Homo sapiens: one gene and its partner. The protein of the gene in region 1 purifies or fractionates together with the protein of each later gene. This does not show direct contact. Each region holds a gene or a part of one and is shown on either strand. Other genes may lie near its edges.

What was found. The genes of interacting proteins can lie anywhere in the genome.
Region 2: the proteins of SULT1A2 (region 1) and TRAPPC9 purify together in Homo sapiens (affinity purification with mass spectrometry; 3 studies listed by BioGRID and IntAct, with this or other methods). This does not show direct contact.

The regions. Positions count from the first base shown.
Region 1 is NC_000016.10:28,594,050-28,601,280, forward strand, and holds the start of SULT1A2 (sulfotransferase 1A2), read right to left. Parts: upstream 3,002-7,231; 5' UTR 2,948-3,001; exon of another isoform or gene 2,085-2,947; intron 1,917-2,084; exon of another isoform or gene 1,886-1,916; 5' UTR 1,882-1,885; coding exon 1,734-1,881; intron 1,627-1,733; coding exon 1,501-1,626; coding exon of another isoform or gene 1,416-1,500; coding exon 1,318-1,415; intron 1-1,317. UniProt on the Homo sapiens protein: Sulfotransferase that utilizes 3'-phospho-5'-adenylyl sulfate (PAPS) as sulfonate donor to catalyze the sulfate conjugation of catecholamines, phenolic drugs and neurotransmitters. Is also responsible for the sulfonation and activation of minoxidil.
Region 2 is NC_000008.11:139,727,217-139,733,761, reverse strand, and holds the end of TRAPPC9 (trafficking protein particle complex subunit 9), read left to right. Parts: intron 1-1,559; coding exon 1,560-1,783; intron 1,784-2,533; coding exon 2,534-2,701; 3' UTR 2,702-6,037; downstream 6,038-6,545. UniProt on the Homo sapiens protein: Functions as an activator of NF-kappa-B through increased phosphorylation of the IKK complex. May function in neuronal cells differentiation. May play a role in vesicular transport from endoplasmic reticulum to Golgi.

The sequences.
Region 1 (7,231 bases):
CATGCCCCACACCTGGACCTTTGCTTTTTTCTTTTTGTTGTGGTTTTTTTTTTTTTTTGGGGGGGGGGACTCTAGGTCTCAAAAAAAAGAGAAAAGAGAAAAAAGACCTTGGGCTTTCTTTTTTCCTGTTGCCCAGGTTGGAGTGCACTGGAGTGAGAATAGCTCACTGCAACGTTGACCTCCCAGGCTCAAGCAATCCTCCAACCTTAGACTTTTGAGTAGCTGGGACTATAGCGCTATGCCACCATGCCCTGCTGATTATTTGCATCTTTTATAGAGATGGAGTCTCCCCATGTTTCCTGGGCTGGTCTGGAACTCCTGAGCTCAAGCGGTCCACCCATCTTGGCCTCCCAAAATGCTGGCATTACAGCGGTGAGCCACCCAGGTGGCAAACCTTTTAAAATATTTATTTGTTTTGTTTGAAACAATGTCTCGTTGTGTCTCCCAGGCTGGAGTGCAGTGGCACAATCTCGGCTCACTGCAACCACCGCCTCCCAGGTGCAAGCTATTCTCCTGCCTCAGCCTCCCGAGTAGCTGGGATTACTGGCGCCTGCCCCAACGCCTGGCTAATTTTTGTATTTTTAGTAGAGACGGGGTTTCTCCATGTTGGCCAGGCTGATCTCAAACTCCTAACCTTGGGTGATCTGCCCACCTCGACCTCCGAAAGTGCTGGTATTACAGGCGTGAGCCACAACAGGCCCAGCCCCCTGCCACCTGCCGCTTTTTTTTTTTTTTTTTTTTTTTTTTTGAGACAGAGTTTTGCTCTTGTTTCCCAGGCTGCAGTGCAATGGTGAGGTCTCGGCTGACTACAACCTCTGCCTCCCAGCTTCAAGCAATTCTCCTGCTTCAGCCTCCCAAGTAGCTGGGATTACAGATGCCTGCCACCATGCCCGGCTAATTTTTTTGTATTTTTAGTAGAGATGGGGTTTTGCCATGTTGGCCAGGCTGATCTCAAACTCCTAGTCTCAGGTGATCCACCTGCCTCAGCCTCTTCAAGTGCTGGAATTACAGGTGTGAGCCACCGCACTGGTGGGACACTCTTTCTATTCATCGTTTTTTGAGACAGTGTTTCTCTGTCACCCAGCCTGGAGTGCACTGGTGTGATCATAGCTCACTGTAGCCTTAAACTCCTAGGCTCAGATGATCCTCCCACCTCAGCCTCCTGAGTAGCTGGTATTACAGGCACACACCACTATGCACAGCTAAGTTTTTTTTTTGGAAGAGACTTATCTGGAACTTCTGGCTTCAAGGGATCTTCCCACCTCAGCCTCCCAAAGTACTGAGATTGCGGGTGTGAACCACTGTGCCCAGTCTCACCTTGACCTTCTGATCCAACAGAGTCTGGGGGAGCAGAGCCAGGGGCAGGTGTGTCTTCAGGAGTCGTGGGGCTGGTGTGTTTTTCAGAGTCTCCATCCCTGAGCAGTGGGTCAGGGAAGGTCTGGTGAGCTGAAGCCCCAGCCCTGTCTTCCTCCACTCCCCTTGCACCCAGGACACACACACCTGAGGGAATCCCTGGGACTTTGAACTCAAGGAAGGGCACCCGCATGAAGATGGGAGCTCGGTGACACTTTTCCAGGTCACCGCCCTGGTAGATCATGTCCAGAATCTGGCTCACCCAGGTGGTGCCTGGAGAGGGAGGGAGATGGGAGGTGAGCAGGCTGAGGTGAGCATGACCTCGCTGGCCAAGGTGGGGACTGCCACCTGGGAGAGGGTGGGTGGCCCTCCTCACCTACCGGACTTGGGGTAGGTGCTGATGAGCAGGTCATCAGGCCGGGCCTGGAAGCTCTGCAGGGGCCCCAGTGCCTCTGCAAAGTACTTGATGAGCGGGACCCCCTTCACGTACTCCAGTGGCGGGCGAGAGATGTCCTGGATCAGCTCCATGTTCCTGCGTCAGGGGCCAGAGCCAGGCCCGTTCCCTTACCACCATCACAACAGCAAGAAAGTGGAATTCTTGCTTTCAGGGAAGTCACTGAGGCCTAGGGAGGCTGAGTGACTTGCCCGCACTCACAAGGCCAGTCAGTGGCGGGGCTGGGGCTGAAAACCAGGTCGGGCTCTAATGTGGTGGTTCCCCAGCCTGGCCTCACCTTTCATTCACCTGCGGAGCTGTTCAAAATCCCAGGGCCTGGGCCATGGTGCAGACCAGTGAAAGCACCCTCGTGGCGCGGGGCCCAGATGTCAGGGTGTGTGAAGGTCTCCAGGAGAGTCCAGCTGCACTGAGGAACCTCTAGGACCTTCCTGTGCTGTCTTCCTGCCAGCCAGCGCCCTTTGTCTCACCATTTCCTGCTGGGACCCCCAGCCTCCACCCAGTAGGCTCCTCTCCCCGATGTTCCCCTCCTTGAGCCCCTCGGCCCCTCACATGTGGCAACTCCTAGGCTGGCCAGGCCTGTGATCCACTTGCCCGGCCACAGTCCATCTGGGCTCCAGGACAAACAGCCCATTGAGCAACTGAGCTGGTATTGGGGGCCAGAGCCTGATGTGGGAATGAGCAAAACTGTGATGACTCAGCAAAAGGAGGATCCTGGGCAGGGTGGCTCCCACCTGTAATCCCAGACCCTAGGGAGGCTGAGGCCAGAATTTGGAGACCAATCTGGGCAGCATTGGAAGACCCCATCTCTAAAAATCTTTTAAAAATATTTTTTAAAACTATCCAGGCAGGATGGTGAGGGTCTGTAGTCCTAGCTACTGAGGCAGGAGAATCACTTGAGCCCAGGAATTCAAGGCTGCAGTGGCCAGGATCCCACAGCACTCCAGCCTCGGTGACAGCAAGACCTGGCCTCCCCGGAAAAAAAAAAAAGGAAGGGAGGGGGATTCAGGCCGGCCGGGGTTGTCTGAAATGGGATATCCATGGGGAGAGGGCAGGGATAGCAGAGGCCTCGGCTTCTGGAATGTTGGAGCCACAAGCTGAGCAGGGTGAGGGCGTCCTGGGCCATTCCGGTGTGTCACTCACCTGAGCTCTTGGGAACCTGGCCTTGTGCCCTCCTCGCCCGCAGTGGCTGAGTGTGGGTGTTGTGTGGGGAATGCAGGGGTGTTGTCTGTGCTGAGGGTTTCTTAGGTCAGTGTGGGAGGGATCTGGAGCCGGGGCTGGACTTAGATTTGCTTCCGGAAGGAAGGGGTAGGGTTGGGGGTGGGGGAGCTTCTCTATTACCCTCCTTAGTTTGCCAGCTGGAGACAAGCTTAAAGTGATCTCCAAAGCCACGACTGGGTTTGGTGTGTAGAAAACAGAAGAATGAAAGGGGAAAGGGCCCAATGGTGGGTTTGTTTTTGTGGGTTTTTTTTTTTGAGCTGTCACTGGGCTCCTGACCTGCCCCTGAACTCCAAAAGACAAGCTTTCTCTAATTGACCCAGGCAAGAGAGGGGAGGGATTGGAGGAGAAAGATGGGATAGGCAGGCCCTGGAAAGGTCACCTACCTGCTGGCTCCAGGCCAGTCTTGAAGGTGCCAGGGGTCCTGGCCCAGTGCAACCCACAGGCCTCCAGCAGCCCATGCACTCCAGGCTCTGACCACAAGGCCAGTCTGGAGTGATGCGTGTGGGCAGAGTGAAGGGGCAGGGGTGGAGCAGAGCATGGATCCATAGAACAAGAAAGAACAAGGACACTGCAGTCCCATTGCCCTGGGAGCCAGCCCCAGCTTCATGGCTCCCTGGGGACCTCACAGAACATCGATAGAAGATCCTAGAAGAACCACAGCCCCTGGCAGGTACTTTTCTTTCCATGGGTTTGAAGGAGGCTCCACAGACAGAGGCCAGAGGAGGTTGAGGCTTGGAAGCCACAGGGCCCCGTGGAAGGAGTGCATCCCCCCACCCTCCTCGTTCTTTGTCCTCACTATTTAAAGTCCAGGGTCAAGCTGGGCACGAGACAGGTAAACAACCATCTGAGTAAAGGTGAGTCTCCCAAGCCTTCCCAGGGTTGCGTGAGCTCAGAGGCAAGCGGGGAAAACTGAGGCATGGGATTTCCAGGCAGAGGAGAGGCTGCTCCCCTGCTAGGGCCACAGGCCCCTCCTCCCTCCTCTGTGCCCCTGAGGAATCCCCATGACTGGCAGGTCCTCCGGCTACTAGCTCCACCCCTGCCCTCAGCAACCTTCAGGAGGCCCTCTTGACTGAGACTTTGTATTGCACTCTAGTGAAAACCAGCCGGACCAGCAGGGGGTGGCACAGAAAAGAGGCGAGAATGTGAGATTAATAGAGTGCTAGCAAGACAACAGAAAATCCCAGGCAGCAGTTTCACATGACCAGAAGAAGGAAACTTGAAATAGCTGCATGTGCCAAGGGCCAATAAGTCCCTGAAAAATAGGATGAGGACCAAGCTGGCTGCGACCAACCAGAAGCAACATGGCGCTGTATTTGATGTAGGTTTCACCTAGGATCTCACTGTACAATCAGTAACATATGAAACCGTACACCCACCAGTGCCAAGACGGCTCCAGGAACACCTGTATTTGGGTGTAAATTGTGGCACCACGGTCTTGAGAAATCTTTACCTTTTCCTGGAATCTTCATGAATATACCCCTCTTTAGTTGAAGAAGCCCATAAAGGTCAGCCCCACACCTTGTAGGGCATGAGACACTCTCTTGAGGACCCCCACGTTCCTCTTCTTCAGTGAGTCCCTTTACTCTGCAGGAAATCTGCCTACGTTCATGACTTTTGCACTTGTCCTTAAATTGTTTCTGGCTAAGGTGCCAAGAGCCTGGAGAAGGCCTGGCACGGTGGCTCACTCCTGTAATCCCAGCACTTTGGGAGGCCGAGGCAGGCAGACCACCTGAAGTCGGGAGTTTGAGACCAGCCTGACCAACATGGAGAAACCTTGTCTCTACTAAAAATAGAAAATTAGTCAAGCCTGGTGGCACACGCCTGTAATCCCAGCTACTTGGGAGGCTGAGGCAGGAGAATCGCTTGAACCCGGGAGGCGGAGGTTGCGGTGAGCCAAGATCACGCCATTGCACTCCAGCCTGGGCAACAAGAGTGAAACTCGGTCTCAAAAAAACAAAACAAAACAAAAAAAAGCGTGGAAACGGGCTGAGGTCGATGTCCCACCGGTCTTTGATGACCTCCCCTAGGCCACCAGTATCTGGAGGGGATTAGGGACACTGAGCTCCAGCAGGGCTATCCAGTGTGCCTGCAGAAACAAGGTTGGTCACAGGCAGCCCAGGACAGGGAGTGGGGTAGGGAGGCTGGGGCCAAAGCCCACTCACGTCTTCTAATTCCGAGTCTTCCACTATTTCCCCCGTGCTCATCCATCACAGCCAGATCAGGTCACCCAAAGCAGTGACGCCTCACAGCTACCAAGGCATGGGGCCAGAGAGAGAGACAGAGTCAGGCATCACAAGCCCCCTCCAGGCTCAGCCCTGAATACCAAGATCAGGACACGGCTGCCCCGGCCTGGATTGCACAACTGGGCACCCTCTTCCCAAAGCTGGACCAGGCTGGGGCCGGGGGACTGCACTCAGCTAGGGCATTGGCCCTCTAGGGGCAGAAGCTGCCCTGGTTCTTCCGGAAGGAACTCCTCTCACAGGCAGATCACGTGGGCTCTTAGCCAACAGCCAGGGTTGGGGCAACACAAGGGCCCCGCTTCATCCTGTCCCAGGCAGCAGGCAGGTAAGAGACAAGGAGGGAGAGGCAGCTGGCAGCAACCCCTCTATGCAGCAGGCACTGTTCCGGGCATTACACAGCTCCATCCCGTGAGGCAGAGGTGACTGTTATTTGCATCTTACAGATGAGGAAATGGAGGTGGGGGTTTAAAATCCTTGCCCCTGGGACTAAGCTGGTGCAGGTCCTGGGAGCATCAGCAGTGATTGATTGAGTCACAGCCTCACCACTGCAGCCAGACCTGAACTTCCTCACAGCTCAGCAACACCCAGCAGGTCACTGAATGTCCCCAGGGCAAGTCCTCTACTCACTCACTATTAGCGGGTGCTCAGTAGAAGGCACCCGTTTTCCATTATTTTATTAACTATTTCTTGGCTATCGTCTCTGTGCAGGACTTTGTTCTACAGCAGTGACAAGAGCTGCCCTCGGGCAATGTAGTGCAAAGGTTGGGGTGGGAGAGACTAACGAGAGTCATAAAGCACCTAGCCGGTGAGATAGTAAGTATTCAGGTAAAGAAGCAGACGGGGAAGTACACAAGAGGTGCAATTTTATTTTATATTTTTAGAGACAGTTTCTTGCTCTTTTGCCCAGGCTATAGTGCAGTGGAGCGATCAGAGCTCACTGCAGCCTCCAACTCCTGGGACCAAGCGATCCTCCCACCTCAGCCTCCCCCCGTAGCTGGGACTACAGGCATATGCCACCATGCCCGGCTTCTCAGAGCTGCAATTTTAAATCGGGAGATAGAGAAGACCTCCCTGTGGAGGTGGCAGGTTATCAAGATAGGTGTAGAGAAGAACCTTCCAGTCAAAGGGAAAAGGCAGGTCCTGCTGTGCTCAGGAATGGCCAGAAATACTATCATCCCCATCTTAGAGACGGGGACAGGGCCGCAAAAGTGTCAGGGCGTTTCCTGGCTCCTCAACAAACAGCTGGATCCGAAGTGGTCTGGGGGATGAGCCGCCCTGCCTGGGGCGGACCTCCCCTGGAGCTCAAGGGCTCGCAGGGCGCACAGGCCTCTTGGGCCCCGGGTCCGGCTCAGGCTCGGGCTTGGTGCCAGCAAAGGGACCTGCGCGGTGCCCTGGGGCCGGGGAGGCCCGAAGGCCATCGCCCGTGCGGCGCGGCGCATAGAGGTCCCGGCGGAGGTCGGGGTGCAGCGGGAGTAGGAGGCGCGCCTATGGAGGGGGTTCCAGGCCCACTCCAACAGCGGCAGGATACGGAGGAGTTAGGGCGGCTCCAGGCAGGGGGGCGGACCCCAAGCCCTTGCCCGCCTGCCGCCGCCTGGTCTCCTTCCTTACCCGAAGGGTTGCCACGGCGGGCGGGAAGCCGTGCACGACGAGCACTTTCTCCCTGGGGAGGAGAACGGGGGTGTCCCTGTGAGCCCTGCCGCGCCCAACCGCGGGTCCCCTCCAATTCCACCCGAGAGCGGGGTCCTCACTGCCGGCTTCAGCCTAGCCCCAGGCCCTGCCCCTAAATGAAGTCACGCCCCCTGAACCTGCCCACCTCAGGCCGCGCCTCCAGCCCAGGTACCCACCTGTCCCCCCTCCTCTCCCTCCTGCGCTCCATCCGACCCCAGCATGCCCACCAAGACCCCTACGCTGGCCCGCATCCTGGATCATCACCTCCGCCCCAGCCAGCTCCTCCCCGGAGTTCCAC
Region 2 (6,545 bases), on another chromosome or scaffold:
CTGGCACCAGGCCCGGCCCAGGATGCCCGTGACTGTGTTAAGGGGCAGAAGGGGTGGGAGTGCTCTTGTGGCCCACCTGCTCTCCCTATGCGTGTCACCATCATGTCATCCTTATTCCACCTGCCTGCCTTGATAGCCCACAGCACAGGATCAGCCACGGCAGACCATGGGGCTCAGGCTGGCTCCCAGGGCCACGCAGTTTGTACTTGGATGACATGAAGTCAAATTGCAGGCTGCGGGACCTCCCACTTCCAGGACCTCCACAACAGGGCCACAGCAGGTGGCCTTTGCCCAGCAGGAAGGGCCCCCCACCCCACATCTTAGCCTGCTAGGGCTGCCACAGCGAACGACCACAAACTGGGTACTTGAACAACAGATGTGTGTTCTCAGTTCTGGAGGCAGGAAGGCTGAGACCAAGGTGCTGCAGGACCATGGGAGGTTCTGGGGGCTTATTCTTCCCTCCTTCAGTTCCTAGGGGCTCCAGCCACCCAGGGCTCCTTGGCTCCTGCCCGTATCCTCTAGTCTCAGCCTCTGTCTCTGTCTGTGCTTCCTCCTCTTCTGCCCCATATAAGGACATTGTCACTCACTACAGGGCTCACTCTAATCCAGAATGAGCTCCTATCGGGACCTTTCACTTAATTACATCTTCAAAGACTCCCCTTCCCCAATACGGTCACATTCTCACGTATCTTTTGGGGATCACCATGAAACCTGCCACCCTGATCATCAGCTCGCTTCCCTGAGAGAGGGCACACTCTCTCCGCCCCCACCCCACCCTGACCTCAGCCTCCTTCCTTGCTGCTGCCCAGTTAGGAGGCGTCCTCCTTGTCTGCAAGCTCTTGGGGCATGTAAGCAAGGAAGGGAAGAGGAGATGAATCCATGCTCCTTCGCCCAGGACCAGCTCCCTGCCTGGCAGGGTCCACGGGTCCCAGAACCGTGCCACTTCCCTGAGCACCTGTTCTGTGCTGAGCTGTGTGTCAGGCACCCTGGACAGGCTGACAGAATGAAGAAAACACAGTGCAGCCACTTTATAGGGAGTGCTGGAGCCCACTGTGCATTCCTCCTGGGGAACGAGATCAAGACACCACCTCCTGGGGTGTGTGGTCTTGCAGCCACTGGAGGAGAGGGACCTCGGGCCTGCCTGTGCCCCAAAGCTCACCTGACCCCTGACCTGCGGCACTTTAGGGCCTGTAGGGCCCCTTCCACGCCCTCGCCTCTACGGTGTCAGACTCTCACCTGGACAGGAGTCCCTGACTCACTAGAGAGCTCCTCCCCTTCTAGGTGGGCTGTGGCAGGAGGCCCTCCCAGAGGCCCCTCCATTGGGGTGCAGACCCCTTGAGTCATAGCTCTAGCCACCACACCCGTCTTTGCCAGGTTCCTCTTCCGGAGACCAGGAACTGGTCACACATCTGTGTCCCCAGTGTCCAGCCTGGCAGGGAGTGGGTGGCAGCCTTGAAGAGTGAAGGAGGGAAGAAATGAATGAATCAGCGAGTGGGTGGGGTAGGCCGGCTGGGCCGTGCAGGCCAGCCCAGCCCCCGACAGTCTCGTGTCCCTTACAGATGTGCTGGTGGACGGACAGCCATGTGACCGCGAGGCTGTGGCGGCCTGCCAGGTGGGCGACCCCGTGCGCCTGGAGGTGCGGCTGACCAACCGGAGCCCGCGCAGCGTAGGGCCCTTCGCCCTCACTGTGGTCCCCTTCCAGGACCACCAGAACGGCGTGCACAACTACGACCTGCACGACACCGTCTCCTTCGTGGGCTCCAGCACCTTCTACCTCGACGCGGTGCGTGGTGGTGTGCAAGGCGGTCTGGGAGCCTCTGGCCATGTGGTCATCATCCCCCCTTCCCTGGGTGGTGGGCTTTGGGGTCAGCATATGTCCAGCAGACGATAGCAGCAGGGGTTCTGTGGTCACGTGTGCACACTGAGTCTGAGTCTGCCCCATTCACTGCAGGAACTTAGACAAGCTCACCTGTCTCTCAGTCCTGGACAGTGAGGCCCTCAGGGTTGGTGAAGCAGGAAAATGTGCAGGGAATGGGAGCTGTGCCCAGGACAGGGGGCTGCTCCATGATTGGACCCTGCTGTGGCATCACTGTGATGTCACTGTCACCCATCCCGTGCCTGCCGCTCCTTCCACGGAAAGGCTCCAGCCCTACGCCCTCAGCCCCCACCTCCCACCTCCTACCTCTCAAGCTGCCTCTCAGCACCTCACTGTCAGGCCCCAGCACAGGCTAACATTCCATTCCCCTCTGCCCCAACCTCTCCCTCACTCCCTCCCACACTCCTGACCCTCCCACACTCCTGACCCCCTGAGCCCCCAAACAATTCAGGAATGGGAATATTGGCAGCTCCTTTCCAAGATGAAAACTGGCTCGGAGAGGCGCAGTGACCTGCTGGAGGGGGCACTGGAGCCAGGCCTGGGCGGCCCTCGCTTCCCCCATAACACCTATGTCCAGGCAGATTCCCAGGATTCCTGGTGGCTTTGGGTGGCCCCTGCTGCTGACCAGACTGATGTGTCTTTCTCCTCCCTGCTCAGGTGCAGCCGTCCGGCCAGTCGGCCTGCCTCGGGGCCCTCCTCTTCCTCTACACGGGAGACTTCTTCCTCCACATCCGGTTCCACGAGGACAGCACCAGCAAGGAGCTGCCACCCTCTTGGTTCTGCCTGCCCAGTGTGCACGTGTGTGCCCTGGAGGCGCAGGCCTGAGCCCGCCTACTTCCGTCCCTCTTTCTGCAGGGCCAGAGGTGACCCTGCCTGGCCTCCCACACCCCCTGCAATGAGCAAGGCCTTCACTGCAGCCCCATCTCCTCCTCCTCCCCCAGACCCCTCCCAGCCCTCTCCTCCTGTTCCTCCTGTAGCATCTTTGCTGGGCTACGCAGAAGCCCCGGACATGGCAGCCCCACCCCATGCCACGCCCCTTCCTACACTGTTCCCTGGACCATACACAGGCTGAAGCAGAGGAAATCCCAAAGCGGGTGCCCATCCAGCCCAGGTCCCAGGATCCCTGCACCCATTTCTGTGACCTGGGGCCCCAGCCGTGCTGTGCTGCTCATCCCAGCAGAGGGACCTCCCTCGTCCAGCGACTTCCCTTTGGCCATAGAAAGAAATGGTGAGCATGAGACTGGGCACAGCCTGAGGGCGTGGGCAGCTTCCCACCCTCCCTGGGCCTTGGAATCCCCCAAGGCTGGTTTTCTTCCTGGAGACCCCCATGGGCAACTTGGCAGGAGAGATGGTGCCGTAGGAGGTCGTGGATGGTTGATGCCAAGAGAGGCCCTCCACCCGTGGTGGGCAAATGTCCAGGCCTGGGCTGGCAGCCCAGGGCTGTTTCTGGGTGCTCCCTGGCCCCAGGGTGGCGTCTGGTTACCATGGCTGTGTGTGTCCATGTCTGCAAGCAGTTCTTCAATAAATGGCCTGCCTCCCCCTCCCTGCCTCCCTGCATCTGCTAGCCCAGTGCAGTCCGGGGCCCCCACCCAGCCCGTCAGCCCCCACCTCAGGTGGCTGGCTTCCCAGCAGAAGCCGGACCCAGGAAGGGACGGGTTCTGAGTTAGAGATCTCACATAAGCAAACGCTGAGACAGGAATCTGGTCACCAGCAGCTTGTCTGGGAGGTGGAAGGAGGCCTGCAGGGGAGGGAGATCACCAGTGAAGGAGTGTGACTGGGCCCGAGCTGCCGCCACAGTGGGCAGCTGGCCCTGCGTTCCTCAGGGAGGACCGGAGAGAGAAAGCACACGGCTCACATCTCCCTTGAGGGCCAGAGCTGGGGTGTGTCTACACTACCCACAAGAGTCCTGTTCTGGGGGCAGGCTTCTGGCTGTGTTGACCCTTAGCTCCCCAGGTCCCAGGGAGGATAAACAGCCCTTGGTCCCCAGCAGATACCAGGCTCGTCAGGTGCCCGTTGGGCACTGAAACTCCCATGGAGTATTGGGGGACAGAGAGCGGGGCTTCCTAAAGGCCAGTTGGCCAAACAGGCAGAGCCAGGAAGTGGCTGCCCTGGCCTCCCATGGGGCAGAGTCATGTTGGCATCAGGAGGCCTGCGGGGCTGAGGGAACTTCCTGAGGACCTGAAGTCCCAGGCCCAAACCTCCCTCGCTGGGAGCAAGGTCACCCTGTGGCCTCCGGCCTAAGGAACAAATTTTTTGTTCCATCTGTGGCCTCCTGTTGTCGCTCAGTGAATGATGGGAGCACACTGTGATGTGGTGTGGGCTGGGGGCATGTGGGGGCGGGTGTCCAGTGGCCCTCAGTTCCTGGAGCTCATTCAGCATCTGCTCGAGGCTCCCCAGGGAAGGCAGCCCCAGAAGGTCTGGCTGCAGTAGGGGGTGGAGACCCCAGGGCGGTCTCTTCAGCCCTTCCGTTCAGGATGCCTCAGCGTAGTTGAGGGCCTGGCCACCTGGGCTGTTTCTGAATGGAACAAACAGCATCCATGTGTGTCAACCTCAACAGAGCCCAAAAATACGCCATTGAATGAAACAACACATTGCAGGATGATGGGCTCAGCCCAACCTCACTTGTGTAGACAATGTCCCCCCAAATTATAAATTTTCTATGCCTCAGAACGTGTCTATAACAACATGTTTAAAAGGTAGAAAGGATACACATCCCCTGTAGAAGAGTGACCTGAACTGGAGTTGCATTTGACATCTGATGTCAGCATGAGGGTGCTGGTCACCGGGGACTTGAGTACGTACTTTCCTTTCAAAAGCACAATAGATCAAGATACAGGTACACACATAGCTACAGATATAGATCCAGCCACAGATCCAGATTAGATATAGATGCATATAGAAGCCTAGAAAAGCCAATATGGAAAACTCTGGCAGTGTTTGATTCTGAGTGGCAAGCATATTGGTGACTGTAATTATTTCTTGCAGTTTTCTATATTTTTTAGTTTCCCAAACTGCAAAAAATACCCACAACAGTTACCAGAGAAAATGCTGGATGCCACAAGAAGGAAGAACCTCAAGGGGCAGGAGGCAAAGTTGTCTTCTTGGAGGAGGGGGTGTTAGAAATAACCCAGGCCTCCTGGAAAATGACCCAAATACAGCCTGGCTCTGCCAGCCCCAGGCCCTTCCCCACCCCCAGGGCACCCTTTCTGTCCCAGTAGAGAAGGTGACCTGGAGTCAGGCCTTGTGTGTGCTCCAAGCGTTTGGAGCTTTACCGTGGGATGTGGGGAGCCAGGGGTGTTGTTTGCTGGCATTTCTGTGGCTGGGTCTTTCTGGCTGTGGAGCTGTGTTTGTGGGCAGTGGCTGAGATGGAGGACCTGGGGCAGGTGTCTCAGTGACAGCGCAGTATCCTCCAGCCTCTTCCAGGGCCCCACGCTACTGGCTACCTGGCAATACAGTCCAGCAGTTGCTGCTTCTCTAGGCCCCTGGTGCATTCAGAAACCTCCTGAAGGCCAGCGGAGGGTAAGCCAGGAACAGATCATGTCCATTGCACTTCACTAGCTGAGCGAGTTGGTTCTGCCCTTCTGATCCTTGGTCCCTCAGGGCCAGGACAGGCCCGGTGACCCCATAATCATGCAGCCGTCATGCTCCGTCATCTGAAATTCACAAGGAAGGCAAGGATTCAAAGGAAGATGTCTGAGATGCTGAACTCCAGCTCAGCCACTTGTCAACTCCTTGACCTTGGACAAGTTACTTAAATTAAGCCTTGATTTTTTTTCATCTGAATAAATAGAGATAAAAATACTTATTTCATGGACACTTTCATATCAGTTTATTTGATTTAACCTCCTAGATTTTTTTTTAGCACATGATAGCAACTTCTTAATAAATACTGGGTCCCTTCTCCTAGCCTTCCCATTGCTGTTCTTTTTAATTCCATCCACATGTCCTGTGCCTGAAATATCCTGTGCCATGTGCCTGAAATTCCATTCTTCTCCTGGAACCCTTAACAGGCCACATTGCTATGCTCCGTTAGTCCCCTGCATGGCTTAATGTATTAGGTAACATGAAGCATGTAAGGAAGAACTTTCTAACACAGGTGCTGAAATGGGACAGGAAATGCTGATGGAGTGAGCTCTTTGTCAATAGAAGTATTCAAGCAAAGTCCGGACCTGTAGATGGTTTCAAAACATGTAAGCATCATTTGGGGCTTCTGAGCCTACCAGCCAAGAAATTGTCAATGATGACTTGTTAAGAGGTATTTCTGATCCCAGTAAGCAGGGAAGAGAGAGAGATGTATGTGACCACATGGCTCTTGGGGCCTCAAGCAATGTCTTAAGACACAATAAATTTTGATCAAAAAAGGCTTTCAACATGAAGGGCTAGAGATCTAGACTAAGGGTCTAGGCTAAGCCTCTTACTGAAAACACATTTGTAAGTGCATCCATGACCCGGCAGGAGAGTCAGAAATATTCACCCCAGTACCTGTGTGTAGGCAAAGTCCTGGGAGGTGAGCTGTGCACTGATGCCAACTTCCACTTTGAGGGGTTTTGCCAAAGCTGGAGTATCAATGTCTTCAGCCTTCCAAAACTGGAGGAAAGATGACAAAGCTCAGGGCCCACTGGCTGGGGAATCGAATAGATGACTGCTCCGCATCAATTTGAGAGCCTAA